4 linked regions of the Homo sapiens genome follow. The protein of the gene in region 1 purifies or fractionates together with the protein of each later gene. This does not show direct contact. Each region holds a gene or a part of one and is shown in the gene's direction. Other genes may lie near its edges. The genes, in order: SP3, EFL1, GRHL1 and SUB1.

Region 1 (7,275 bases):
AAAACTACTGCATAAGTAAAATTAAAAAGCAGATTGCTTCTCCTGATCTTTTTTGTATTTCAAATGGAACAAAACTTTTCTTGTAACTGTAATTTGTAAAGTTTAGATATCAGTTTACAGATGGGGGAGGGGAGAAGGAAGGAAATATGGGTGAATAATATGTGTATGTACATACATATGTGAGTCTGAGGCCCAAGGATAGAATACTGTCTCCAACCTTAGCCAGCTGTGGCCATATACTTGTAGGGAAGTTTCCATGCTTCTTCAGCTGCTTTTCTGAATTACCAAATCACTCCTGACAACACATATTCTGCCACATGAAGACGAACTAGAATCAATCTGATAAATCTGAGATTTATCAATCAAATACATCATAATTTGCCAATCATAGTAAAATGAAAATAGTTTTGCCTAAAAAAAAAAAAAAAAAAAAAAAAACCCAAACCATATATTTATGATGTCTGGTACCTGCACCCAAGATTTTTCACTTTGAGTAAAATTGGTAAGACTGGCTTGTGTGTATTTGCCTTAGCAAATAGAAAATTTGCTAAAAATTTATTTTTCCAGTGCAAATATGAACTTAAGACATCTTTTCAGCACATCTTAGAAAAGGAAATTCACATGAGTTCATGGGCTTAGATAATCTTTTATTACTCAAATGACTGGGAATTATGAGAGGTTATAGCTGTGTTTTTAAATAATTGTATTTTGGAATAATTTTAAATTTATAGAAAAGTTGGAAATACAGAACTGAGTAATCTCATACCCTTCATCCAGCTTCCCCTAATGTTAGGATAATGATGATACATTTGTCCAAATTAAGACATGAACATTGGTATGACATTACTAACCAGACTTTGTTTGCGTTTCACCAGCTTTTCCACTAATGTCCATTTTCTCTTCTGGGATCCAGTCCAGGATTCCACATTGCATATATATTGTTGTGTTTAAACAAGTGGAAATATACACATACAGATGAACTTTATGCCAGTTTAGCTTGGTATTTTGAGATTAAAAGGGCCTTGAAAAGCCAATCAACTGTGCTGAAGATTGCTTTTAATATTTGGATTTTGAATTTGGAATTTGTCATAAAAGAGGATCCTAGCCAAGGGTGTTTGGTTACCCACAGTACATTGCTGAAGAAGTCTAGTCATAAAGCAGTCTCGTATATAATGTCGTACAACATGGACTCTGAAAGATGGTTTTATAGCAACGCTCCTTTGTACTTAAGTTGTGGCTAATTTTAGTAGTAAACCAGGAAATAGAAAAAAGTAGACCTTTGTGCAAGTATTAACTTTGACCAGTTTGCATTTATGTGAACTTGTGGATTATTAATTTACTTCATTTTTACTTTAGTGGAATAAAATAAGTGACTTTTATTTTTATTTTTATTTTTTTGAGACAGAGTCTCACTCTGTCGCCCAGACTGGAGTGCAGTGGCGCGATCTCGGCTCACTGCAGGCTCTGCTTCCTGGGTTCACAGCATTCTCCTGCCTCAGCCTCCCGAGTAACTGGGACGACAGGCGTGTGCCACCATGCCCGGCTAATTTTTTTTTTTTGTATTTTTAGTGGAGACAGGGTTTCACCGTGTTAGCCAGGATGGTCTCGATCTCCTGACCTCATGATCTGCCCACCTTGGCCTCCCAAAGTGCTGGGATTACAGGCGTAAGCCACTGCGCCTGGCCTAAAATAAGTGACTATTATGAAAGTGATTGCTTGATCTTTGGTTTAGGTTGTAAATTTAGTGTTCCTTAATTTGGCACATAAATGTTGAGCTAAAAAATAAGTAATAGCTTACTTCAAAAAAGTTATTTTGCCATTATTTAAAATAAGACCTGTGCTGTCATTGTAACTAATTCATTGGGTAGGGTAATTCTATTTGAAGTCTGAGTTCTTTTAGTGCTCTTTGAAGATTTTAAGAAACTTGAATATTTGCCTAAGTTCTTAATTTGTTTCCACCTCAGCTTCACACCTGTTCTTGTTTCCAGTTATACTCCTTCCTTTCCTATTTCTGGCTTTCGTAAAGGCATTCGTGGGAACTAAGTTAATAATCATTTCCAAATGCTATGCAATAGGTGGTGTGAATTTTTTCTTTTTCCGTTTCCACCGGTATATTTGTATGTAGAGAGACTTAGAGTGCCTTAGTTACAACTTTTTACTGTACTAATGCCAACATTCATGTTAGATGGTGTTTTGTTTGTTTTTTGAGAAAGGCTCGCTTTGTCTCCCAGGCTGGAATGGAGGTGTGTGATTACAACTCACTGCAGCCTCAACCACTGGGGCTCAGTTGATCCTCCCACCTCAGCCTCCCTAGTAGCTGAGACTACAGGCACGTGCCACCACGCCTGGCTAATTTTTGTATTTTTTGTAGAGATGGGGCTTCGCCATGTTGCCTAGGCTGGTCTTGAACTCCTAGACTCAAAGGATCCACCTGCCTAGGTTTTGTTTGTTAATTGTCCGGTAAGAAAGGTACTGAGAGAAACACTGGTGGATTTTTAATTTGGTTTGTAAACTTACGTAGACATAGGTTATGTAGAGGATTATCTTGCTTCTAAACCAAATACTAGTTCTCGTCTTGGTTGCCTGTTTTAATTTTTTTTATTTTTATTTTTATTTTTTTGAGACTGAGTCTCGCCCTGTCACTCAGGCTGGAGTGCGGTGGCGGAATCTCGGCTCACTGCAATCTCCGCCTTCCAGGCCCAAGCCATTCTTCCGCCTCAGCCCCCAGAGTAGCTGGGACTACAGCCCCAGAGTCCCAGAGTAGCTGGGACTACAGATGTACACCATGCCCGGCTAATTTTTGTCTTTTTAGTAGAGGCGGGGTTTCATCATGTTGGTCAGACGGGTCTCAAACTCCTGACCTCAAGTGATCTGCCCGCCTCAGCCTCCCACAGTGCTAGGATTACAGGCGTGAGCCACCGGCCCTGTCACGGTTGTACGTTTTTAAATCTCCTTTTATTCTTTTGTTTCTGTAGTGTTTCCAGTAGTCTAACATCAAACATTTTTCAAACTTTTTTTTTTTTTTGGTCTCAGATGATTTTCTAATTTATTCCTCTCCCATTTGGTATTTAGTGTACTTTATCTCTTTTAGTGGTATATTGCTGATGAAATTTCTTTTACAAAGAAATTTGATTGTGCTTTGCAAGGCTTTGTAGTTTTGAAATATTTGGAGCTGATTCATTGTGGAATTGTGGAAATAAATAGGCTTAAAATTGGTTTAGACTTTTTCATAGAAGGCTCTTAATACCTCAAAATTTGTTTTGATCCATTCTGTCATTGTGTTTGCAATGATTTTAAAGTAAAATAACTTTTCATTCAGTAAATATATATTGATCTTACTGAGTGCCAGGAATTGTGCTAGGCTAATTTTAATGGATGTTTTTCAAATCTATTCTCATAATCTTAGCACTCACAATGATCTTGGGATTGCACAGTGCTCAATAGTTTATAAAATTTAATATTTTTCTTCTGATTCTTATGCCCCTGCAAGGTAATGTTTTTCCGGTTGTTGACATGAGAAAATTGAGTTGCTGTAACTCACACAATTCCACAGTGTAGCCAGAACTAGAACTCAGTTCTGAGCTTTTTTTTTTTTCTTGTGTAATATATTGTCGAGTGTAGTTTTGGCATAAATCATCTAGTAGTTTTCTGATTCAATGTGTTTTTTCCATTCCATTTAGAAAATAGGGTATTCAGCAAATTTTTTTAAAACTGCAAATTTATTAAATTAAAAAAGTTCCTTTTCTTGCTTGATTCTTTTCCTTAAATTACCTGTTGCTTTTTTTTTTTTTCCCCCATCGTTGTGCTTCACAGGTATTTTAATAATGCTTTTCATTTCAGGCTTATTCAGAAAAGTTCGGAATACATCACTTTGCTCTAGGTTTAGAGATTTTCCTTCAATTAATGGCCTGAATTGCTGAGAAAAATGGCACTACAGTTTATTTTTATCTAGCTTCTGGAGAGGGGATGACTTGGGCAATATTTACTCAGATTTGTCATTTGCGTTAGCTGTATTTATTTTCAAGGAATTTCTTGACTAGAAAGCTGTTCAGTGATGGTTGAATATCTGCCTTTATTACTATTTTGTAAAAAAAAAAAAAAAACACTTTAGGTGCTGTAAATTTGACTTTGTTTTTTTTAAAGAAAGGAAAAGGGACAAAATGCCAGTATCATAAAATTAATTTGTGTCTGAGTTACTATATTCTTTGATAAAAGTTCAATACCTGTAAATTTTATGCTGGTCAGAAAAAATTTCAGTGGATCCTCCAGGTGAGCAATAACCTTAAGAAGATAAAGGTTAGATTTTAGACACACTTTAGTGTAGATTTTAGTATATAGATTTAAATATTTGTAGTTTACTTAAAATGCCAAGAGACCGAAATGAAACATTTGTCACTGTAATGTTAGGAAAGGTGACTTAACATTGTAATTTCTATACCAGATTGAAGTTGCAGAGTGACATGTGACTTTAATGTCTGATGCTTCATTTTAAAATTGTTTAGTAAATATAATTTAAGTGTATTTAAGACAGATCGCTATTTTATAGTTCAGGCCTAGAGATTTGTATTGGGTTCCACAATTTCTCAGCCTTTAGTCTCCTCCCTTTCTTTCAGTCTCCTTCATTGAGCCTTAGTTTATCTTTATAAGACACAGATGTGATTGCACCACTCACTTGCTTATAAACCTTTTATAGCTTTCACTCACTATCTACAGGATAAAGTCTAAACAATTTAGTGGGATCTGTGAAGCCATTTACAAGCGTTGATAAAAATATCTAGTCCTGTTCCCCATTACTTTCCTCTATGAATATGAGCCTTTTTGGGATCTTTTCTTCAACTCCAAACTGCATATTATTATTTAGGGTTTCTTTTTGTGATTTTATTGTTTCTATGCTTTTATTAGTGCCTCTTTTTTAACTGACTACAGGAAAATCTTATATTCTAATACTACTTTATCTCTGTATGAAATCTTTTTTTTCAATCTTGTGTCTTCCACAGAGTGTTTTGATCATATGACTAGTCTGTGCTACTTTTCACATTGTATTAGCATGGATGTGTGTATGTCTGCTTGGATTGACAGTGAACCGTTTGAAGATTGGGATTGTATGTCATGGGTTTACTCACGTGTGTATTTCATCTTGGTAAATTACGTTCAAATGTTTGAATTCAGTCATTTAACTGTGGTTCATCCACTGAAATAACTGTATATATTTCTCAACTATGTCTTCATGAAAATTAGGTAGTGAGTTTCTTTAAGAAACTTAAGATTTTTTTGTTTATCATATTTGCATTAAGTTTTATAGAATGGTTTATGTTGAGAGAACTGTGTATGTCTCAACTGATTTTTATGGTCCCATTGAGATTCCCATTGAGAATATAATGAAACCCTAGATTATCTTTCTCTCCCTCAAATTGTATTAATACACCAGAATACAAAAGGTATATGCCAGACATTCTACTGAAAACTTAGACTAGTAAGTAAAGTCACAGTGTGTATCCTCCAGCTTCTGATCCTAGAGAAACCTTTCAAATGGGGCTACGTTGTCATGTGGTCACAGGGCAATGACTTTTTCTCATTAAGTTTTTTTAAGGTCTTTGTTTTTCATTAGTTCATGGAAAAAGTAGAGTTTGATAGCTTAATGGAATAGCCCTAGCCATGAGTTTACTTTAGAGTATGTTAATAGATGCCACAAAAGAGTAGATTTCATTGTTTGATTTTAGGCTTATAGCAATAAATCTTTTCTAAGTCGGATGACTTAATACACTATGCTTATGTTTCCTTTTTATACACAAATATAATGCACCTGATTTGGTCATAGCCATCTCCACTGTTTTGTTTTGTGTTTTAACTGTGTAGTGTTAGAGATCATAGATGCAGGATTAGAAAATTGGTCTGTGGTTGTGATGAACATTCCGAGAATTTTTTTTATCCCACTCAAATAGGATGAATTGTCTTTGCAGTAACAAAACTGGAAGTGATAATTATTGTAGTTCATATAGTACTGCTCCTGTATTTGAACTCCATTGTGTTTTAAGATAAGTTGAATTTTCAGGTAGTAGGATTTATACCAGTTTTTAGAATTTTTTGAGGGTTGATTTAAATATACCACAAATATATCACCTTTTTGTTTTCTTCATCCAGACAGGTGATTTGGCTTCTGCACAGTTAGGAGGAGCACCAAACCGATGGGAGGTTTTGTCAGCCACACCTACAACTATAAAAGATGAAGCTGGTAATCTAGTCCAGATTCCAAGTGCTGCTACTTCAAGTGGGCAGTATGTTCTTCCCCTTCAGAATTTGCAGAATCAACAAATATTTTCCGTTGCACCAGGATCAGATTCATCAAATGGTACAGTGTCCAGTGTTCAATATCAAGTGATACCACAGATCCAGTCAGCAGATGGTCAGCAGGTTCAAATTGGTTTCACAGGCTCTTCAGATAATGGGGGTATAAATCAAGAAAGCAGTCAAATTCAGATCATTCCTGGCTCTAATCAAACCTTACTTGCCTCTGGAACACCTTCTGCTAACATCCAGAATCTCATACCACAGACTGGTCAAGTCCAGGTTCAGGGAGTTGCAATTGGTGGTTCATCTTTTCCTGGTCAAACCCAAGTAGTTGCTAATGTGCCTCTTGGTCTGCCAGGAAATATTACGTTTGTACCAATCAATAGTGTCGATCTAGATTCTTTGGGACTCTCGGGCAGTTCTCAGACAATGACTGCAGGCATTAATGCCGACGGACATTTGATAAACACAGGACAAGCTATGGATAGTTCAGACAATTCAGAAAGGACTGGTGAGCGGGTTTCTCCTGATATTAATGAAACTAATACTGATACAGATTTATTTGTGCCAACATCCTCTTCATCACAGTTGCCTGTTACGATAGATAGTACAGGTATATTACAACAAAACACAAATAGCTTGACTACATCTAGTGGGCAGGTTCATTCTTCAGATCTTCAGGGAAATTATATCCAGTCGCCTGTTTCTGAAGAGACACAGGCACAGAATATTCAGGTTTCTACAGCACAGCCTGTTGTACAGCATCTACAACTTCAAGAGTCTCAGCAGCCAACCAGTCAAGCCCAAATTGTGCAAGGTATTACACCACAGACAATCCATGGTGTGCAAGCCAGTGGTCAAAATATATCACAACAGGCTTTGCAAAATCTTCAGTTGCAGCTGAATCCTGGAACCTTTTTAATTCAGGCACAGACAGTGACCCCTTCTGGACAGGTAACTTGGCAAACGTTTCAAGTACAAGGGGTC
Region 2 (7,777 bases), on another chromosome or scaffold:
TTTTTATAAAGCTTTTTTTTTTAGAAAAATGTATAAAGTTCCCTTCATTTCTTAGTTGTCAGATATATTAGTTAGGAAGCAGGTAAGACTGCTCTAATAAAGGGATCCCAAAATATAGTGGCTCAAATAAGGCAGAGATTATTTCTCTTTTGAGTCTAAGGAGGCAGACTAGGGCTGACATGTGACTCACTGTGGTAGGAGCCCAGGCCCATTCTGGCTTGCTGCCTTTCTCAACACTTAGCTCCCACTGATTGTCCAAAGTGGCCGTTCTACCTCCCGCATCACATCTGCATTCCGGCCAATAAGAATAGGGATGAGGAAGAATAAGATATACTCCTTCCCTTTAAGGACACAAACTGAATCTTGCACACATCACTTCACCCTCATGCCAATGCCCAAAACCAGTCATCTGACCACATCTAACAAGGCCCCACCTAAGAAGGAGGCTGGGAAATGTAGTCTTTAGATCTATGGCCTATTGTCTGTTTTGATAAATAAAATTTGTTGGAATACAGCTGTACCCAATCATGTATGTATTTTCTATGGCTGCTTTTAAGCAGAGTAAAGTAGCTATGATAGAAATAATATATGGCCTGCAAAGTCTAAGATATTTACTGTCTGGCTCTTTATAGGAAAAGTATGCCCCCACCTTCGGACTCTAGGTGGCTATATGCCTACCTGAAATATCTATTACCAAAGAAAGGTAGAGAACGGATATTTAGGGACAACTAGTATAAAAACAGCAAGATTTTACCAAATAGGCAGTTTTTGTTACCTGAAAGCCTTGATGGTTGTCCGTCTCCTTTATCCTTCAGAAATTTAAAAAGAAAATCTTAAAATTGATCTTATACATGTAATACTTTTTTTAAAAAATATTACTTTCTGGCTTAGCTACATCTCGTTATTAAAAATAAGTCTCTTAAATAAATAACTTGAGAGAAAAATATTCTCAAGAAAAGTTTTGCCCCAGTTTTGTACCATCCTTCTGCCATGTCCTTGCCACCTGTCGTGGTCCTGTTCCCAAAAGCTTCAAATCTTTGAAATCTTAAAAACTACATTATAATTAAATGTCATTGATCTGATATATTTTGGCTGTCTTGGTTTTTCCCCCATAGTTAGGTTTAGAAATAACACAGTTGTTGAGATATGGCTTCTCACTCCAAGGCACTTCTTTTCATTTGTATTCTACCACACCATATAATTTACAATCAAGAGCTTTTGAGAGAAAGTGCTTCAAAAAATAGAGAAAATAAAATTACAGGCATTTTTCCATGAGGAAACCTTTGAAGTCAGCAATCTCATAATTTCTCTTTCTATGTTTTACCCTTCTATGAAAAAGGAAGAAAAGGAGCTAATAACAGACACAGAAAGAAAAAATATTACCAACCAGTGCTGTTGTACATGTATGTCAGCATAACCTCAAGATTCATCGCTTATTACTGAGATTACCCTGAGGGGTGGGCTAAAGTTCATACCGGGTGAAGTGATTACAATAGCACCAAACAAGCTTATTTTGGACATGGTATTTTCCACCTGCCAGCAGTAATCATCGTGAAAACTGGGCAGAAAATTGAAATGGAGCACCCAGAGCTTTTTCCTTCTAGGCTTTCTTTTCCCTTAATGCCTAGGGTAACAGTTTGCACTTGGGTGCCTTCTTATGATTAGAAAATGGCATCCCCTTCAGGCTGTTGAATTGCAAAAATACATTCTCACTCTAGGCCGATGAATTCTGGGTGAGGCAGTGAGGGAAAAAAAAAAAGCACCTTTTTCTTCAGTTTGATATCAAGCCCCTCTCTGTGGCCTGGAGGGTCCTTTCTGTAGAGCACAAGCTGGACAACCATAAAAGGGTAGCCTTGTCTTTGCTCCACTAAGGAAATTCAAAACCAGCCTCGAGCACTCGAGTGTTACTCCATCTCCCCTGTTCTCAGAGTTTGTTGGGTATGTTGAGGCAAGTGGCTTCAGGCTGTCCACACAGATGCAGGAGTAGTGAAGATGTCTTCATACAGTCATATGATATTGGGACTTTTAACATTCCATCCTTACAAATAGAAGAACCCAGGTATAAATGGTTCGAAATAAGCTGCCCAAGATCGCACAGCTAAGCAAGTAGGGAACTGGCATTGAAGGGAGACTGCCTGGCTCCAGAGCCAGTGCAGTTGACCCTCACACCACGTTCACTCTGGCCTCAGTGCCTGCTCCTGATTCAGTGAAGTGCCAACCCCCGACTCCTCACTCTCTGGGTTTGATTCCACACAGACTCACTTGGTTCTTCTCGCTCATTGCAGTCTCTCTGCCTGTTTCCTCGCATATGAGGAAACAGACACCACCCCTCTCACCCTGTCCTCCCACCAGCAAAGCAGAATAACCAATTCTGAAAACAGTTTGTGTTTCTTATGAATGTTGAGAATTTTACCTCCAGACAAAAGAGAATTATAACTTGTGGCCGGGTGTCTTAAAAAGAATTTGTTAAAAAAATTACAATAGTTTTTTTCCATAGGAAGTTACCAAAAAATATGTACAAGGAGGTCCTATGTGCCATTCACCCCTCCTTCCCCAATGTTAACATCTCTTACAGTACATTGACATTGATACACCCATAGCACTTGTTCAGGTTTCACCAGTTATAATAAATGCACTTGACTTAGCTAGTACCATTGTGCAATTTATGTTTGGATAAACTCAGTCTTCATGGCAGTCTGCAAACATGGCAAAGGGCAGGCTTTGGAGCCAGACAAATCTAGGATATGCCAGGTGCTTTACCATATGACTTTCATATAATATCTTCTTCAGTCTTCACAACAACCCTGTATCAGTTGATAGATTATGAGTGTTTTCAGCCGCAAGAACCATAATGCCAGAATAGTAATTGTTTAAGCAAGTAGGGCTGGTACCATGGCTCAGGGACACCATCAAAGATGCAGGCTCCCTTTCTTCTGCTCTGTATATTCATGGGAGTTTGTGTGTCTTTAGTGCTATAAAAGTGTATTACATATGTAGCTTTATGTAATCAAGATACAGAATTGTTCCATCACCACAGGCTCCCTCATGCTCCCCCTACATAGCTACACCTACCCTCACCCTGGGTGGGTGGCTTTTGACCAGTCAGGCTGTTTTGAGTGGCAACCACTTTCCCTCCCTTCCTCCTGCCCAGGCCCTGAGCCCATACTGACTCAGCCCTACTGGTATCGTGTTGACATTGTTTGCTGGTGAATGATCTGGAATGAGCCTTTCTATCCTAGGCCCAGTGGCTGGTGAATCAGAATTGAGTCTCTGGGACTGTTGTGCCCACAAAATTATAGCACAAACCCTCTGACCCAGAAGAACCCCCTCAGATGACCAAGTCCACAGGACTGAGCTTCCTCCCCACTCCTCCTTCTTAACTGCCGTTTCTCGTCTAAATTCCATCCATTCGCCCTTGTCTGCCACTCTGCCTACCCCCCCCCCCCCCCAATTCCTGGACCTTGTCTCCTTTTCTGCCCCTTGTTGCCCAACCTCTAACTGGGCTCCCACTTCGAGACGCTCCTTAGACTTGCTGTCACCCACCAGAGTTATTACTCTAGTGCTGATAATGCCTCTGTGCCCCCTGGCTGCTCTCACTTCTACTGTCTGCCTTTTCCTTCCGGGGACTCTTTTTTGAAAGGATATTTCTAGTTCTTTTGTTGAGTGTCCATGAGAGGTAATATGTTTTAAAGTCTGTCCAACAGAGGCTTTTTTTGGTTCGCTGATAATGGTTTATTTAACTAGATAAAGACGTGTAGGCTCACACTGAGGCTCCTTAGCACTCTGAAGGACTTCATTGTGTCCCAGCAACTGCTGTTGCTGATGCGAAGCGTCTCGTTGGTCTGATTCATGTTCTTCTCTAGATCTGGCTTTTCTCTCTGATTTTCTCTGTACCTGCCTCAGCACCAGGACACAGGCAGCTGCTTTGTTTCCAACCTTTGTTCAAGAGCAAGAAGCACAGTTGTGGCTCACACCTCCCATTCTATAGTGTCTAGTGGGTCAGAATCGAGCCTCAGGAGATGCAGGTGCCCACAGATTTCCAGCATTTCAACACTGTCACAAGGGGTGGATTATTTTATTATCTTGGTCCAGACTCAGTGAGGTTTTTCCATCTGAAGACTCTCATCCTGTTCTCTGTTTTTTGGTTTTAGAACTCCTGTTAGATATACCCTATACATACTTGATGGCTCTTGACTTTCCTTTGAGACTTTTTTTTTAATCTCCATCTCTCTGTGCCGTATTCTGTATTCAGGGAAATTTCTTTAAGTCTCTCTTTTTAAAAATAATGTACTGAGGTGAAATTCATACAACATAAAATTGAACTTTTTTTTTTCTTTTGAGACAGAGTTTCACTCTTGTTGCCCAGGCTGGAGTGCAATGGTGTGATCTTGGCTCACCACAACCTCCACCTCCTGGGTTCAAGAGATTCTCCTGCCTCAGCCTCCCAAGTAGCTGGGATTACAGGCATGCGCCATCAAGCCTGGCTAATTTTTTGTATTTTTAGTAGAGACAGGGTTTCTCCATGTTGGTCAGGCTGGTCTCAAACTCCTGACCTCAGATGATCCACCTGCCTCAGCCTCCCCCAAACTTGAACATTTTAAATAAACATTTTGCTGCATTTTTCCCATTCACAATGTCATGCACCCACCACCTCCAGAAAAAAAATTAAAAATTAGCTGGGCATGGTGGCATGCACCTGTAATCCTAGCTGCTTGGGAGGTCAAGGGAGGAGGATCACTTGAGCCCAGGAGATTGAGGCTACAGTGAGTATGATTGCACCACTGCCCTCCAGCCTGGGCAACAGAGCAGAACTCTGTCTCTTAAATAAAAAAATATATGTAATAATAATAAGAGTGTAGTTACATGTGTTGATCTTTGTTGAGGTTGAGGACAAAGGCAAAATATTGATGGCAAAGACATTAACATTCAGATATATCCTAGCAAAAATGAAAGCTTTTAAAAATTATATTATGAAAAATTAATAGTTTTCTTTCTTCCTTAGTGTTATGAACTGGCGCTAGGAGCAAAGAATAATAATGTATGTTACAAGTTTTGTTGAATCTACTTCCATTTGTTCACACCTCCCATGATTCTTCATACTTTTTTTTTTCTTTTTAAGTTGGAGCCTCACTCTGTCGCCCAGGCTGGAGTGCAGTGGCATGATCTCAGCTCACTGCAACTTCTGCCTCCCGAGTTCAAGTGATTCTTCTGCCTCAGCCTCCCTAGTAGCAGGGACTACAGGCACATGCCGCCCCACCCAGCTAATTTTTGTTGTTGTTGTTGTTGTTGTATTTTAGTAGAGACGGGGTTTCACCATGTTGTCCAGGCCGGTCTCGAACTTCTGAGCTCAGGCAATCCACCTGCCTTGGCTCCCAAAGTGCTAGGACTATAGGCGTGAGCCACCACACCCTGCCGATTCTTCATACTTATTACCATTCCTAGCAAGCTTAGCTGTTCATTGCCTAACTTTTTTTCATTAGCTAAGACTATATAAATTGGGGAGCTCAGTGAATAAGGTTTGAAATTAAAAATGCCTAACCTTGCACATTCTGTCATCTTCTTTTACAAGATCATTCCCAGTGACCCCTTCTGGGTGCCAACTACTGAGGAGGAATACTTGCACTTTGGGGAGAAGGCTGACTCTGAGAACCAAGCCCGGAAGTACATGAACGCAGTACGAAAGCGGAAGGGGCTTTATGTGGAAGAAAAGATTGTGGAGCATGCAGAAAAGCAGAGGACACTCAGCAAAAATAAGTAGCTACCTACTACTGGTGGATTCTTTTCCTTATAGTGAATTTAAAAGTATCATCAAGGGTTTAATATTGGGAAAATTTCTTTTTGCCACATTATCTCTGTTTATTCACTTTCAATAAAGTTGATCCATATAAATATTTTAAAGAGGATGTTAGAGAACATGTTTTCCAAGTGTGTTTTTAATTGGTTCTGGTTCAAGGCAAGAAGTTATAAATATTGCAGTGATGATTTATGACTGCCCTGTGTATAACCCCCAGCAGTAAGACGTGTGGTCAGGGCTACCCTCTTGGTGGTGGGGAGGTGATGTGCAGACCCACAGTGGGCAGTCTCCTCTGCACTGAGCGGCCACTCCGGGGCTCACACTGTCTCTGCCTGTCATCACAGTGTCATAATTCTGAGTACATCCTCCACATAAACATCATGTGTGAATTTCGGAGTGGAAACATTTCATATTTAATCAGTGAATCAGAGCATTTAACATTGTTTGGAGAGACCGCATACTTGAGAGAGCAGCTGCTTTTTAGTTAAACCAAGTCACTGTTACAGCTCATCCATCTTATGGTGTTGTCTAGCAAAACAGTATCATGTTCAATAGTTAGCCTGTAAATCTTCTGCTTTTACACCCACTCATAAATTTTATCATTCCTATTTAAATCAGTGTTAATGGGTGTTATCCCTGTACCTTTTTCTTTTTTTTTAAAAAAAGGTAAATTTCTATAATTTTATTTGCTATTTCCTTTTAGCCTTACTTAGCTAATGTGCATGAGGTTATGGCTTTATTGTAAATATTTTTTCTAAATCTCAGTTGCCTCCTTCAGGGTGATCTTCATTTAAGGAGCAAATGCAGTTCAGACAAAAATAGATTTTATATTTTTTGATGTTGCATAATAATTTTTATAGCCACTTAAAAGAAGGATTCCTTTTCATAGCATAAAATTATCAGACCAGACTTTGTTTTTGAAATACTTTAATGGGTTTTCTTAATAAACTAGGTCATTTTTAATACTAGTTGTAGACATTTTATCTCTAAATCTTCAGGGCCCTGGCATAGCTGGTCAAATCTAATTGGCCTAGACTTTGGGGAAAATGTGACTGGATAATTCACTGTCTGTTTAATTTCAACAGATAATAATATATGAGTTAGTTTAGGAGAGTTATATCATCTATTGGTTTATTTGAAAACTTTGATAACATAGGAAAAACTAGCACTTCGATTTATAGCATTTGTAAATAACATCATTCAAACTGCCAGATGTGCTATAAAATGTATACTTAGATCAGCACATTTTGCATTTAATAGAGAAAAGAGGCATAACCCAGAAAAAGTTGGAGAAAAAGTTGCACTTTCTGCAGTCTGTTGGGCCCTGACAGATGTGCCAGTGTGGGGGAAGTGACATGTCGAGTTGATAGATTGTCTGTCTTCCTTCTCCATGTTTGAGAGAGGTAATAATGAGCAGGAAAGTGGCCACAAAGAGGCAGACCAAGGGATAGAGCCAATCTACCATCTAAATAATCTACCTTATTGTGTAATTCATGACGAGACCTCAGTCATTGAAACCCTGTCCCCTTCTGTGACAGCATAGTAAGACTACGTTTGTACTGTGCCCAATGCCATGTCCAAACCCTAGCCTCTGTTTGTTGAATTCAGTAGAAGCCAAGCAAAATGTTGTCAGTCCACAAGTAGAAGTGAGAGTGTTCCTGTTCTTACAGAGGGGCTGGCTTTGTACACTCATTTATAGATAGGCTTCAGAGACAGTGAGGAAGGCTAGGTTGAGGAAGCCACAAAACCACGGCTCTCACTCCTGGAGAATTATTTGTATTGAGGTCCAGAGGCAGCTATCCTTCTGCTCAGGGGACAGGCATAGGCAACACCAACATAATGCCTTTTCCCAGACATCCTGGAGTCGGTGGGTGAGGGGAGGAGAGGCTGGGAAGGGCCTGGGCTCCAGCCCCCACTGGAGGATGAGCTGCAAGTAGCATGGAGACCATCACCATTGCCCTCTGATTGGGAGGCTGTGAAGAG
Region 3 (8,039 bases), about 160 Mb from region 1:
TTATAAAGGCCACTCCAGTGGCAGTGTGGAGCCGGGTCAGAGGAAATAGAAGAAAGGCAGGTAGAGGGACACTGTTCCCAAGTCAGTCACTTTGGCACCACCCTGATGACTTGTACCCTATTTGGGACCATCTGTGCTGTTATTGACTAGCATTTTTCTTAAATTAGCGTGCTTAGAAAACATAATTGATTTGGCAGGGCGCGGTGACTCATGCCTGTAATCCCAGCACTTTGAGAGGCCGAGGCGGGCAGATTGCCTGAGGTCAGGAGTTTGAGACCTGCCTGGTCAACTTAGTGAAACCCCATCTCTACTAAAAATAGAAAAATTAGCCGAGCGTGGTGGTGGGCGCCTGTGATCCTAGCTACTTGGGAGGCTGAGGCAGGAGAGTCGCTTGAACCCAGGAGGCAGAGGTTGCAGTAAGCTGAGATCACGGCACTGCACTCCAGCCTGGGCAACAGAGGGAGATTCCGCCTCAAAAAAAAAAAAAAAAAAAAAAAGGAAAAGAAAAAAATAATAAATGATTTAAACAGGAAACTAGTGGTAAGAACAAACAACAGGCTGCATGGATCCAGTGCTGGGCCCGGGGTCAGAGGACAGAAACTGCGAAGGGCGGTCTCAAGTGAGGCTGCCGATTCCGGTCCCTGAAGGCCTTGGACCAGGGCACAGAGGAGGGACTGCTGGCTGCAGGAGGGCCCTGTGACCTCATGCTGCTCCTCACTTCACCTCCTTCCCTTGGCTTCCACGCTTCCATTGCTTCCGACCTCGGTGTCCCCGTCTTCTGTCTCCTCCACTGGCTCTTCCTCCCAGCCTTTCTGTGTCGGAGGCTCCTGGATCCAGCATGGGTCCCATCCTCTTTCCTTCCTGCCTTCTCATGGCTTTAAATGGCCTCTAGACGTGGGCGGCGCCCAGATGTGAGCTTCAGCCCAGACTTCTCCCTTGCACTCCAGCCTCGTACCCAGGAGCCCACCTGATTCATGGATTTTTATCTCCCATACATCTTGAGCTTAGCACGTCCAAAACAGACTCTCGTTCTCCCCCAAATCTTCTATGCCCCAGGTCTTCTGTATCCCAGGGGATGGCAAATCATTCCTCCAGTTGCCCAGCTGGAAACGCTGTAGTCATCCTTGATTCTCTCTTTCTCTCACACCCCATATCCAATTTTCAGACAATCCTGCTGGTCCCACCTTCAAAGCATATCCAGAATTCGGCCACTTCCCACCACCTCACTCTATTGCCCTCGGCCTGCATCATGGCAATGGCCTCCTACCTGGTCCCCACCACGCAGCAGCAGAGAACTATTTTAAAATGTGAGACCCTGTCACTACCCTGCTCCAAGCCCCTCCAAGGCGTCCCCACCTAGCCCAGAGGGAAAGCCACAGTCCTTACGGAAGCCGGCAAGGCCCTGCTCAATCCGCTCCCCTGCGCCCACTATCTCTGACCGCAGCTCCCGCCTCCCTGTGCCCCACCAGCCACCCGGGTCTCCTCAAGGGTCACAAAACACACCAGGGTCCCTGCCTCAGGTACAGTCCCACCTTCGTGGCCCCTCATCTCCTTCAAGCCTGAAAGCCTCGCTCCTCCCCGCCTCCCCAGGGCCTGCCTGCTTTACCTTCCAACCAGCCACACCATTTACTTGTTTTTGTATTGCCCGTTACCCCAACTAGGAAGGCGAGGAGTTGTGTCTGTTCTGTTGACTGCCCTGTCCCCGGCGTCTGGGGCCGCGCCTGTCCGAGGGTCAGGTCCGACGCTGGGCATGTGGGGACTCAGTGAGCGGACCCTGGGAAAGACGGCAGCTCGGGAAGGACAAGTGGGGGCCGTCGCGGTGGAGTGGTGCCCGGGGCCGGCCCGGGGCGCGCGACTGCACGGGCAGCGTGGGGCGGCCGCGCGGGGAAGTGGCGCCCGGGAGGCTGCGGGGCACAGACATCGCGGAGCCCCAGGGACTGCCGCCGAGGGGACCGCGGGAGCTGCGAGGGCAAGAAATCCTAAAAGCGCGCGGCCGCGGTGGGCCAGGAGAAGGGACATTCCGGAGACGGCTCTCGGGGGAAGCCACGGGACTCGGGCGTGACAGCCTGCGAGAACCGAGAGGTGAGACGCGCGACCGGGGAGCGCGGCGACCGGCAGAGGCGCCCCCGCCGGGCGAGCGCAGGGGCAGCGCGGGGCGCTGGGGCCGGAACAGCGGGCAATGTGGGCACGGGGCGCGGAGGCCTGAGTGAGCGAAGAAGGAGGCGGCTGTACGGCCGGGGCTCGTCGCGAAGGGGATGGCCGGGGACGGCGGGGACGGCGGGGGCGGCGGGGGCGGTGGCGGGGCGCGAGCGGGGGCGCTCTCGGTGCGCGCGGAGGTTGGCGGGTGCGCGCCGCAGCCGCAGCGCTCCCTCTCCTGTCAGGGCAGGCGCGTACGGCCGCGAGTCGGGCGCGCAGCCCCGGGAGCGCAGTCCCGGGCGCAACCTCGCGGAACGCGCGGCCCCCGCCCCCCGCCCCGCGCCGCTCGTCCCCGTCAGCCCCGCCCCGGCGCTCTTCTCGCCGACCAATCAGGAGGCGCGACCGGCCTCCCAGCCCCGAGGCCTCGCCCCCAGCCGGCGCATCGCCAGCCAATGAGCGGCCGAGCCCGGCGCCCAGTGCGCGCAGCCCGCGCGGAGCCGGCTCAGAGCGAGAAAAGCAAACCCAACCCGTCGGGGCCGCCGCTCCGGACCCGCAGCCGCCGCCGCCGCCTCCTCCCCCCGGATCGGGTGTACTGTCCCAACCCGAAAGTCCAGTTCTGCGGCCCGGCAGCGGCGAGCGGGCGCGATGACACAGGAGTACGACAAGTGAGTGAGGCGCAGGAGTCCGGCCGCCGCGGGGGGGCCGCGCTGAGGGGCCGCACCTGCAGCGAGCGAGCCGGGCGCAGACCCGAGGCCGCGCGGGCGGGCGGGCGCGGGGCGCGAGCCGGGGGCCGCTGTCCACTCCACGCCGCCACGGCCTTTGCCCCTTAGCCCTGCCGTGCTCTTTGTTCGGTCGGAGCCTCGGGAGGAGAGACCCTGTCCTCGGGGAAACTCGACACCGGAGGGGCCACCCTCCTCCCCTCCTCCGCGGCCAGGTTGGGTCCCCTCGGGCGCGCACCTTGGGGTCCGGGCCCCCGGCGCGGTCGGGTGCGGCGCGAGGTCGGGGCGCAGCCAACGCCCCCGGGCCTCCCCGCCCCCCTCTCCTGCCCGGTCGGCCTCGGGAGCCTGGTGGGGCTCGCGCCGCGTCGGGACAGGTGGACTTCTCCAGGTAATCTGTGGTCTCAGGCTCGTCACTCGGCGACCTGCTGGAACCTCCAAAACAGAAATGTAGGGAAAGGTTGAAGTGCCCCGATGTCCGGGCGTTTTCTTTTCCCTGGCTGGCGGCATGAGTGGGAAAACGGCTGTAGGAGTTATTTTGCCACTTGCATCATTGATGGTAATTACAGATTACCGTGTTTTTAGTGCTCGAGAGAATCAAGAGGATGAAACTTTGAAATCCGGGTGTTAAACGAGAAAGTACTGTACAAGCTAATATGCTTTTTAGAGTGTGTGATTTAAAAGCGTATTTCGACAAATGTGAGGTGGTAGTGTAATAAGGCATGGGGGATTAACTGGGCGAGGGAGTTTTCTGTATTTTCTTTGCAGCTTTTCTGAAAATATAAAATTGTCCTAAAAATTTTAAAAACTTACTAAAGAAAAAACAGGGAAATCGCACCAGGCCAGTCAGTATATTTCAGATCAGGAAGTTTAAGGCAGATAGGTACCCCTCCCAGTTTCTTAGTTATTTGTGAAGGATCGGTTTTTGTCAGTGTGTTCTTTTTCTGGATGAGATAGATATTTTGTATGGAGTATCTTAAATGGATTACTCTTATGTTGTAGAATATGCAGTTAAATTATTGCCTGAAACATATTTCAGAAGTCTGAGAGATCGCAGACGCGGAGTTTAAGGCTCACCTGAAAGTGATGATGAGCCTTCGGCGACTGAAGCCTACTTCCTGACTGTCATGAGGAAGTGGACTAAGAAAGGCAACTGGTTTTGTGTTTATTTCTTGACGTATAGTTTAGATAAGGCAAATTTTCCAAAGCTAACATTTTGGCCTTAGGCAGGCTTTGGAAATATGAAACACCTTCAGGGTGATTCCAAACATAAAGCCATTTCTTTCTCTGTTTTCTATTGCTTGTACAAATTTGGGATGTGGGTGGGAGAAGAAGGGAAGTTGAAAACTAGCATTAAGGGAATTGAACAGCCAAGTGCTGTCATAGTCTTCTGGAAGTAGCTATTACGCTATTAATTATAGCTTAGCAGTACATCAGTCAATCAGTCCATGGCACCAGCCGTTCAGTAGCTGTTGTACTCTGGTCCTGATGGCTCAGGGAATGCCACTTTGTATATTTCTTTATTTTCTTTAAAGTTGAGATTTGTGTAAGCAATCTTCTCCATTTTTAGACAAATGATCTGCTGGCTTTGAACAGTCTTTTATGTTTGTTTTGTGTTAAAATAGTATACCACCTCAAGACTTTCTTACCAAATGTAACGTTTATGCCAAAACGTGAGTAAAAACATTGGCTTTCAAATAACACTTCATTTTGACTGAGGATACATTGTTGGATTTTTTTCCCCTTTTTTGAAGATGTTCTCCTTTTTCTAAATCTGTATCTGTTCTTAAAGGCCCTGGGTGACTCCCAAACGCTAACCTTTGTTGATTACTTGAAAAGATAATCAGTCTTTCTACATTCACTTTTAAAATAGGCAGGTCACCTTTAGGCCATTTACATATTTCATTTGTGTGTTGCAATGAGAGCCAGTCCTTCAATTTGCTTGTTAGAATTGTAATAATTCAGAGGAGTTCCAAACATTTAAAATTTATTTTTCTCCTTGAAAATAAACTGCTTTGTTTTGCTAGAGTCAGTGTTCCATTTTTTCTCTTTATTGACTTATTAAATAGTACCAACCGAACAGTTGTTGAGACTGTTTACATTTCAAGTTTTTGGAATTAGTAATGTTTGCTTTAATCTTTTAAATTAAATCTTCTGTAAGGTTTCACTAAGATCGCCATTGATTTTTTTGGATTTTTCCCACCAAACTACAGTGTTAAAATGAAACAGTTCTTGTGCAATGTGGAAAACTAGCAAAGATTTTTTAAAAGCCAGATTTTCCCACCTATTTTTTTTAAAACTTTTTGTTCAGTGGCTTCATTTATTGTTGGATATCCTTAAGTGTTTATCTCTAAGATAAACAGTTAACTCCCATGCCAGAAAATTATGCCTCTTTATTGATTTACAGTCCCCTTTGGCCACATTCCATGCTCAATCTGCTGGTAATCAGTAGAATATTCTGGCTTTCTCATATACCCTGGAGGATTGCGTGAAGGATCCCTTTTTCTTTCTGCTGCTTCTCCCCTCCCCACTGTGTTCAGGTAGGAATTTTTAAGGCATGGCAGCCACAGTAGAAAGAGGGAATAACATGTAGCAGTGTGATGAACGGCACACGCTCTTCTCAAGAGGGGACAGTCCTGATTGTGTGTTGGAAGAGAACAAGTATTCTCTTTTCTTTACTGTGTCCTTGTGTTTGTTTATGGAAAGTATTTGAATAGCCTGGCATTTTCTCGGGGATGGTTTTGTTTCGCTTTTTTGCCAAATAGTATACCCTGGGTTCCACGTGTAGGTGAACTGCCAGTTCTCTGGCTGCCTAGATACTTTATGTCTTACTGTGGGACCCATTGGTCTGCACTTACGTGGTTTGTCTTCTGGTCTTGTCTTAATTTGACTTCCTAGGGTCATTGATGAAACAATAGGCTATTTTATAGGAATGTCAAGGAATTGGTAGCTTATGATACCTTGCAGTAGAAAAGTGTGTGTTTTTGTTTTTTTTTTAATTTCTCTGAAGCAAACGGCCAGTGTTGGTTCTTCAGAATGAAGCACTTTATCCACAGCGGCGGTCCTACACTAGTGAGGATGAGGCCTGGAAATCCTTCCTGGAAAACCCTCTCACTGCAGCGACCAAAGCGATGATGAGCATCAATGGAGATGAAGACAGCGCCGCTGCGCTGGGCCTGCTCTATGACTACTACAAGGTGGGTTTGCCTGCCTTTAAAACCCTTAACAGCAGTCTCCAATGCACTTGATTCAGCAGCATAGAAACAGACATTTGCTGGTAGAATGCCATGCAAGTTGCTTCTGTAGTGACTATAAATAGTTTAATGAGTACTTTGACTTACTGTGATTCGAAGCTAAAAATCTGTGATTGTAGAATCAAAGGGTTGTTTTTAAAACATGCAAAGCGGTCAGCTGCTGTGGCTCTATCCAGAAGGTGAAGCTACCGTAAAAGAAGATGCTAGATGTGCCTTCTTGGGTTTGAGCATCTCACTGAAGGTGGTTCTTAGTGCCATGGAAAGTGGGCAGGGGTCATTTACCTTTTCACCTTTGTTCCTGGGTAGTCAGGATGATTTCCTTTCCCTAAATGATACTACAGAGCCTTTGAAATCATATTCTGTAGTCTAGGACTGTCCAGTTCCAAGATCAGGATATGTTTTGTTGCCTGTTTCTAGAGATTTGGAGTACTCTTAATTAAATATAATCTATACTCTGCATGGAATTTTACATGATTTTCATTATCTGGAAGTGACACTACTGATTTGTCTCATCATCATTGTCCTGATAACACTAGCTGCCACTATTATGCTAGACATGTTACCAGCCTGCGTGCGACTTCTCACTCAGAGGTCACAGCTAGGATGTGTGCATCTGGGGCCCTAGTCTGGTCCATGGCCGAGGCCACTGTCTTTCTAATGCAGCGTGCATACCGCTCTCCTTCTGGATTCACCTCTCCATTCTTCCTTCTGACCAGAAACACACATTTGGGGGTGGCTACGTCTTTAGGGTGCTACTTAAAACAGCAGACTGAGTTGAAGCACAGCTTTGCCACAGGGCCTTTGTCTCATTGTCACTCTGTGTGACTAACCTGTGTAATCATTGTGTTGTCATCAGTACCTGTATAAAAACAGGATCTGTTTGGGATTACCAGAAGCTTCTTAATGACAGTGTCTTCTCATGAATGTAGTGTATATTTTTTACAGTTTATTTTTGCTATCTTTTTGTTTTAAAAACTTTCAAACCTGCATAAAACTTAAAATAAGAGGATAATTAATTCCTGAATACCTTTACCCAGAATCGCCAGTTGCTAGCCATTGGCTACATTCTGGCACTGTATTCTTTCCTTAATACAAGAAATACAGAGGTGAAAGAAGCCTAGGAGATAGTTTTATTATTAAAATTAGGGTGATTAGCCTGAGCAACATGATGAGGCCCTGTCTCTACCAAAAATAAATAAATAAAAAAATACAGAAATTAGCCGGTTAGTACACATGCCTATAGTCTCAGCTACTTAGGAGGCTGAGGTGGGAGGATCACTTAAGCCTGGGAGTTGGAGGCTGCAGTGAGCTGAGATCATGCCATATCACTACACTCCAGCCTGGGTGACAGAGACAGACCCTATCTCAAAAAAAAAAAATGGGGTGATTATTTCCTAGTATGAGGCCATGCGTCTAACTAAGTTGGGGCTGAGGGATTGAGGTAAGCTCTTTTTTCTTTGAATATGAGCAGAAACTTGTGTAATAACTAATGATGCTAGAAGAAACTCTTACCAGGGAAACATAGCCATGAAGAGTTCCTTTGAAGTGGAAATTATTATATATCTGTTCTTATAGCTTGTTTTATTGACTTACTATAAATTAAGTTCCTAAAACATTAATTATGAAGTTACATATTTTTAACTGAAACTTTTGAGAATGGGAGAAACTCGTTGGTACAAGTTTTGTGCCAGAAAGGCCCGTGTGATAACACTAGGTGTACTACTCCTGCGTCTCAGAAGCATGTAAATCCTCATGTCTGTCCATGAAGGGTGACAATTTTAGTGGTACTTACTTGTCAGACTTCTTGTGATAGGTGTAAATTTATTTTCTTCTTCTTCTTCTTCTTTTTTTTTTTTTTAATAGAAGCAGAGTCTCGCTCTTGCCCACGCTGAAGTGTGGTGGTGCAGTCATAGCTCACTGCAACCTCAACCTC
Region 4 (7,275 bases), on another chromosome or scaffold:
ACGCCTTTGTGGCCAGACCATTTTCATCACCCCAGGAAGTTCCTCTTGGCTTTACAGTCATTGCTCATGTCCTAGGTAATCACTGATCTTATTTCTACCACTATAGATTTATGTTGTCTCTTCTAGAACTTTGTATAAATGGATACATGCAGTCTATTTTTTGTGTCTGGCTTTTGCTCAGTATAATGTGTTGAGATTAGTTCTTGTTGCATATATCAGTAATTTTATTGCTGAGTAGTATTTTGTATGATAATACTACAACTTGTAAATCCATTCACCTTGGGTGGACATTGGGATTGTATCAAGTCTTGGGCTATTAGGAATACAACTGCTGTGAATATTCTTGTACAAGTCATTTTGTGGACATTTTTTCCCTTTTGGGTAAATACCAGATACATTTGCTGAGTCGTAGGGTAAATGTGTAACTGTATAAGACACTGTCAAACCATTTTCCATAGTAGCTGTAGCATTTTACACAGCCATCGGTACTACTTAGGAGATTCCAGTTGCTCCACATCCTCGCTAGATATTGTCAGTCTTTTAAGTTTTTTTCTTTTTAGTTACATTGAATGTATAATGGTAGCTCATGGTGGTTTTACTTTCCATTTCCCTCATGTACATGTCTTAATTCATTGTACATCTTTAGTGTGTTTATTGGTTATTTTTATATCTTTTGTGAAGAGTATCTTTTGGCCACTTAAAATGCCAGGTCATTTGAGTTGTAACACTTTATATATTTTGTCAGATGTAAGTATAATTAATATTTTTTTTAGACTTCAGGGAAACTTTAGTTTTCAAAGCAATCTAGTTCAAAAATGAGTGGAGGTTAACAGAGAGGAAAATATGAAACCAGAGAGAATCAAACAGACAGAATAAGGGGGGACTGGCAGTTGGTCAGGGGCGTCTGTGACAGATCTTCTCTCTCTTGGAAATGAGGTCCTCACGGATTCTGGTCAGTTCATCATTTTCTTCACGTCCACGGTTCTGCTTCTTCCTCAGGCTCTCCTCGAAGGCCAAGACCCCTGTGGCTCCAACTTGAGTGAATATTTTCTTTAGGTTTCTGGTTTACCTTTTTATTTTCTGAAGCATCTTTTTAAAAAAGGCTTTAGTGTGATTGTCTATTCTATCGATTTTTCTCCTTTTTTGCTTAATGCTTATTTTCTGTCCAAGACGTATTTTGCCTACCATGGCCACAAAAATTTTTGCCAGTGTTTTTTCCTAGAAGTTTTATAGTTTTAGTTTTCACATTTAGGTCTATAATTCATGTAGAATTAATTTCTCTGTGTATGATGTAAGATAGAGATTTAGAGTCTTCCCCACCCCAAATGCAGATAGCCTGTTGTTTCAACACCATTTGTTGAAAAGAGTATTCTTATTCCTTTGAATTACCTTGGATTTTACCCCCTCCCCCCAAAAAAATCAGTGAATATATCCAATGCGTGTGTATTTTTTGACTCCGTTGTGTTCCACTGACCTCTTATGTCTGTCTTTACTCCAGTACTGCATTGTCTTCCCTTACTATATTATAGTGAGTCTTGGAAAGTGCTAAGAGACACTTTGTTGAGGAAAGCCTGTTCTTTTCTCTGGAATTTGTAATTTGTGGTAAGCAGATATATAAGATTTTTGAAAAATAATTTTCTGTGAATATTTTTAAGTTCTCAATCTGACTGTGAGTGAGGTGCATTAAAGATGTTATTTGAAGTGAACATGAAAAGGAAAAACTTGGTTGTTATTGACTGGAACTCTGGATTCGTATATTCAGAATGGTTGGTGAAGCAGTGTAGCTAGTTGCATCTGTGGATTCCTCTTGGTTGTAGTTTGTACTGCAAAATATTGCTTCCTAATGATTTTTTTTTTTGCTGGTAAAAACCATAAAAGTATATTCACATTGTTGTGAAACAGATTGCCGAAACTGTTTCATCTTGCAAAACTGAACCTCTGTGGCCATTAAACAACAGTTCCCCTTCTCCCAGCCCTGGTAACCACCATTCTACTTTTTGTTCCTGTGAACTTGACATCATGTAAGTGGAATCATAAAGTATTACCTTTTTCCTTTTTATGACTGGCTTATTTCATTGACGTAGTATGTAACAGGATTTCCTTTTTTAAAAGCTAATTGATATTCCATTGTGTGTCTATTCCACCCCCCCTCTCCCATTTTGTTTATCAGTTCATCTCTGGGTGGATATTTGTGTTGTTTCCACTTCTTGGCTCTTGTGAATAATGCTGCTATGAACATGGGTGTGCAGATGTCTCTTGGAGTCTGTGCTTTCAATTTTTTGGGATATATATTCAGAAGTAGGATTGCTGGATCATATGATAGTTTAAACAGCAATTTCCTTTGGTTGCAGTTTTGATACTGAGAGTAGTACAGTTGACCCTTGAACAATGCAGGGTCAAAATGCAAGGCACCAACCCCTGTGCAGTTGAAAATCTGGTTATAACTTTTGACTTTGTCAAAACTGCTAAGTATAGCCTACTGTTGACTGGTAGCCTTAACAGTAACATAAACAGTTAACATATATTTGTATGTTATATGTATTATATACTGTATTCTTACAATAAAGTAAGCTAGAGAAAAGAAAATATTACTAAGAAAATCATAAGGGAGAAAAATTACATTTTACTGTACTGTATGGTGTTTATCAATAACATTAGTTTACGTTGTCTGTTTATAAGATATGTCATCTGTTAATAAAATATGTCATCTGTTAGAAATTGTAGGCAACCACAGCTGCAGATTTCAGTCCGTGGTACATATCAAGCAATTCAACTTTTTTATTTTTATTTTTATTTTTATTTTTTTGCATTTTAAAATTAAAGACAGGATCTTGCTGTGTTGCCCAGATTGGATTCAAGCTCCTGGGCTCAAGTGATCCTCCGGCCTCAGCCTCCTGAGTAGCTGGGATCATAGGCATGCACCACTGCTTCTGGCAGTTTTTTTCTTGTGATGTCATGCCTTCTCTCTGCTTCTTGGGAGCACTTTCAGCATCACTAGGGGCACTTTGTATAGGACTCATGGTGTTATTTAAAGTTTATGGTATTGCAGTAATCATGATGAAAAATAATGTGAAAACCGTGAGAGATCACTTTTTACTGCAATACGCAATTTGTTGGAGACATGAACTGCTCAGCAGAGATGATTAGCATCACATGGTGTTTTACACAAGGTGTTTTAAGCAGATACTTGTAACATTTGAGTACACTGAGATAACAGGAAGTGGCTATGAAGTTAACACTAGTACACTACTGTAGTTAATTTTATGCAGTTATGAATTAATACTCCATCTTTGTTTACATTTCTCTCTAACTTCATATAATAGATTTGTATGTTTTATGATAGTAAGTGATAAAATAACCTCATATCTAGGTATGTTTTATGCATTCATGACATACCTAACTTTTTCTTAATGTTTTCGTTATTTCTAGGCTATGCAGTTGTTCTGTGAGTTTTTTCAAATTGTCAAGTCTGCAAAAATTTTTCCAGTATATTTATTGAAAAAAATATGCATATAAGTGGGACCTGCACAGTTCAGAGCCATGTTGTTCAAGGGTCAGCAGTAGTCATTTTCATGATTAGATGTAGAGTGAGCATGCAGCAAGTTGTGAATATGAATACAATTGAAACAGATACCACTCTTGAAAGGAGCACCTCTTTTTATGTTTGTTTCTTTTGCAGATTGGGAAAATGAGGTACGTTAGTGTTCGCGATTTTAAAGGCAAAGTGCTAATTGATATTAGAGAATATTGGATGGATCCTGAAGGTGAAATGAAACCAGGAAGAAAAGGTGAGGTCTAATTACTTGAATTTTATTACAGTGTTAGGACTAAACGACAACTTTTCTGAGTAGCTTACTTGAAATGTTGGCAGGACACACGGGGCAAGGAAGAGTCTTACTCAATTGATTCTCTATCTTCTGTAGTTATTTTGGACATGATACTTAACATTTTTTTAATGAGATGTCTTAATACAGCTTTTGGGAATAAAACCCAGAAAAGTAACACCCCTAATATCACTTCAGTTGGCTGCTAATTTACTTGAACAATTTTTAAAAAGGTTTATGCAATTCTGAAGCAGATTAGGCACTATCTGGGAACTTGTAAAATCAGGAATGGAAAATCTTGGTTTACAATGCTTCCTTTTGATTCAGCTCCTAAAAGCTATTCTTTAGGGCATTACTCTTCAAGCGGATCTCTGCTTTCCTTCCATTTGTGCTTCATCCAGTCCCAAGCCTCTTAGCATTGTAGAAACATATTTTGTATAATTCACCAAACAGCTAGAGAAGGTGAGCCAACCTAAATTTGTATATTTGGATTGCTGCTCTAGGTTGACCCTCAGCTAAAGAAAAATGCTTCCTTATTTAGTTTTATTCTGCCTGCCTGTTAGTTTGAAAGGTACCACTTGTTTGCTTCATGCAGTTTTTTTTTTTTTGGTTAAACTCAGCCTCTATATGTGTTTATATGCTTTCATATTTTCTTCAAGTCACTTCTGGATTGGTAATTCACGTACCAGAGTGGCCGATGCCATATTTCTTGTTTATTCTTTTTTTTCAATTTCATGGCCTTCCAGCAGTTTTCTGGGAATACTTTCTGCCAGTTCTTGTTTACTTCTCTGTTTATATGCGTCGGTATTGGAATGCTAGAACGTTAAAGTACAAAATATAGAAAATATAAAATTTCTGTTCATACTTTTACATCTTAAACTGGAAAGACATATCTCACATTTTTTAACCATTTATGTGTTAGGTGATATGCTAAGTTCATTATTCATGTTACTTAATCATTTACAACAACTCTTTGGCGTATAGATGCCATTTTACTGGTGAGGAAACTAAGGCTTACAAGGTGATGTAGTTCTTTTTTAAGGGTCATACACTTAGTGAAAGTGAGGCTGGAATTTTAACCCTGATAGGGTGACCCTAGAGTGCAGTTACCCGGGTATACTCTCTGAGGAGTCCTGTATGAATCACGTCCTGGGAATTTTTCCAAAGTGAAATGAATGCTTCTGGAAGAACTCAGCACAATTGGCTTGAATTCCTGTGGAAATTTTGGGCAAATATTGGAACCAGCTGGAAATATAGTAATGGGGTATCACATGCCAAATCTGGACCTGACCATTTTAGCCTGATAGTTGACGGGTATTAGTAAGATGTGTCTTCAAACCCTTATTTATTCTCATTGGTTACAATAGGTACTATGCAGGATGCACTGTGGAAAGTAAGACTGGATATGAGATTGATAATGCTCAGTAAATTGTGATGATATGTAATTAACAAATGTAAGAGATATGATTTTCAGTATTGTAGCATTGTGTCCAAGTGGCAATTTTTTTTTTTTTTTTAGATGGAGTCTTGCTCTCTTGCCCAGGCTGGAGTGCAGTGGCATGATCTTGGCTCACTGTAACTTCCACCTCCCAGGTTCGAGCAATTCTCCTGTCTCAGCCTCTTGAGTAGCTGGGATTACAGGTGCCCACCACCATGCCCGGCTAATTTTTGTATTTTTAGTAGAGATGGGGTTTCACCATGTTGGGCCAGGCTGGTCTTGAACTCCTGACCTCAAGTGATCCACCCGCCTTGGCCTCCCAAAGTGCTGGGATTACAGGTGTGAGCCACCGCGCCCAGCCTAAAGTGGCAATTTTGATAAAACAGTATTCTAGTTGGAAGTATGAAAATCCTCAACGCTTAAATAGATTTTCACCTTTGAATTTTTAAACTTTGTTTTAGGTATTTCTTTAAATCCAGAACAATGGAGCCAGCTGAAGGAACAGATTTCTGACATTGATGATGCAGTAAGAAAACTGTAAAATTCGAGCCATATAAATAAAACCTGTACTGTTCTAGTTGTTTTAATCTGTCTTTTTACATTGGCTTTTGTTTTCTAAATGTTCTCCAAGCTATTGTATGTTTGGATTGCAGAAGAATTTGTAAGATGAATACTTTTTTTTAATGTGCATTATTAAAAATATTGAGTGAAGCTAATTGTCAACTTTATTAAGGATTACTTTGTCTGCCCACCACCTAGTGTAAAATAAAATCAAGTAATACAATCTTAACTGTTGTGGCCTTTTTTGATCATAAGAGTTGGTACTGTTTAAGGCCAAAAGTAACAGTTTTTATAGATCTTTTAGTTTCAACTCAGCTTTTACAATAAAAAGGATTTGTATTGCATTGAGTTTATAAACTTTTGGTTTGTGAACTTCATATTTGATCTTTTCTCTTCCAATCAAATGTCTAGGCTTGTTTGACTTCCACCCCCAATGGTTTTTCACTCTTTTTATTTACTTCATTTTCCTTTAATAACTTAATCTCTTCATGTTCAGTTTTTACTTCACTCTTTATTCTTTTCTTTGATTATGGTATGCTTATTTGGAAAGTCAGTGAAACTGTCAAAATGTTATCTCAATAAGATACTTATATGAGAACTACAATCACCGAATCTACTGTATTCAATATTAGCAGATCTAATTTGATAAACAACATGGCTTGTGTGAAAACTGAGCAGGTGTTTGTTTACCCATAGTGTTCTGTGTAGTTATTGCTTAGTCTGCAGAAAATAATGACTTAGATGAGATGTCTGACTTGCTTTCACTTATTAAACATGTTCACCATGGGATGATGTCTGTAACATCAGATATTGTTCAACTAGACTAGGATTTAATAAAAATTGTGAAAGCTTACTGGCCTAACATTTTATTTTATAATATTGGGTATGAATTATATGTAGCCAGAGATGTCATTAAGCTTTACTGTTATAGTAGGTAATATGGTTAGTTTGTAGGGAAAAGAGCATATGAGCACATGCTTGTGTATTTTGGCCTTTGCCCCAGTAGAACAGACCAATGGCATTCTAGACTTGATGATACTAAGTTTTAGCAGACACTAGTAAGTGGTTTGTATTTAACCATACTGATGAAGCAGACAGATTGAGGCACAGATTTTAGTGGCTTTGTGGCAATAAATAGGGCATGGTGTGCCTTAGGAAAAGAATGTTTATAAAGGGAATTATAACTGAAATTAAAGGAGGCGGCAGTGAAGAGGAAATAATTCTCTTCTATCTAAATGATATACATATGATATTTTGAGATTTTTATAACAGCAGTGGAACACAATTCTAGGTAGAGTAGAAAAAGGAAAGTTTTAAAGACATATAAAAGATTCTTGTTGACAAATTATTTTTGGTAGCAAATCTCAAATGGTTACCTGCTATTAAGGTCTGCCATATTAGAGTTTTGCACTATTTTGCTACCAAGTTTGATTCATACATCTAAAACATTTT

Evidence for each region.
Region 2: the proteins of SP3 (region 1) and EFL1 fractionate together in Homo sapiens (co-fractionation; one large-scale study listed by BioGRID). This does not show direct contact.
Region 3: the proteins of SP3 (region 1) and GRHL1 purify together in Homo sapiens (co-immunoprecipitation; one large-scale study listed by IntAct). This does not show direct contact.
Region 4: the proteins of SP3 (region 1) and SUB1 purify together in Homo sapiens (affinity purification with western blotting, with the first as the bait; one study listed by BioGRID). This does not show direct contact.

Annotation. Positions count from the first base shown.
Region 1 is NC_000002.12:173,955,099-173,962,373, reverse strand, and holds part of SP3 (transcription factor Sp3), read left to right. Parts: intron 1-6,141; coding exon 6,142-7,275. UniProt on the Homo sapiens protein: Transcriptional factor that can act as an activator or repressor depending on isoform and/or post-translational modifications. Binds to GT and GC boxes promoter elements. Competes with SP1 for the GC-box promoters.
Region 2 is NC_000015.10:82,128,354-82,136,130, reverse strand, and holds the end of EFL1 (elongation factor-like GTPase 1), read left to right. Parts: intron 1-5,569; coding exon 5,570-5,758; 3' UTR 5,759-5,898; downstream 5,899-7,777. UniProt on the Homo sapiens protein: GTPase involved in the biogenesis of the 60S ribosomal subunit and translational activation of ribosomes.
Region 3 is NC_000002.12:9,949,053-9,957,091, forward strand, and holds the start of GRHL1 (grainyhead-like protein 1 homolog), read left to right. Parts: upstream 1-2,640; 5' UTR 2,641-2,781; coding exon 2,782-2,801; intron 2,802-2,859; exon of another isoform or gene 2,860-3,243; intron 3,244-3,249; exon of another isoform or gene 3,250-3,411; intron 3,412-5,862; coding exon 5,863-6,049; intron 6,050-8,039. UniProt on the Homo sapiens protein: Transcription factor involved in epithelial development. Binds directly to the consensus DNA sequence 5'-AACCGGTT-3'.
Region 4 is NC_000005.10:32,595,282-32,602,556, forward strand, and holds part of SUB1 (activated RNA polymerase II transcriptional coactivator p15), read left to right. Parts: intron 1-3,679; coding exon 3,680-3,788; intron 3,789-5,723; coding exon 5,724-5,803; 3' UTR 5,804-7,275.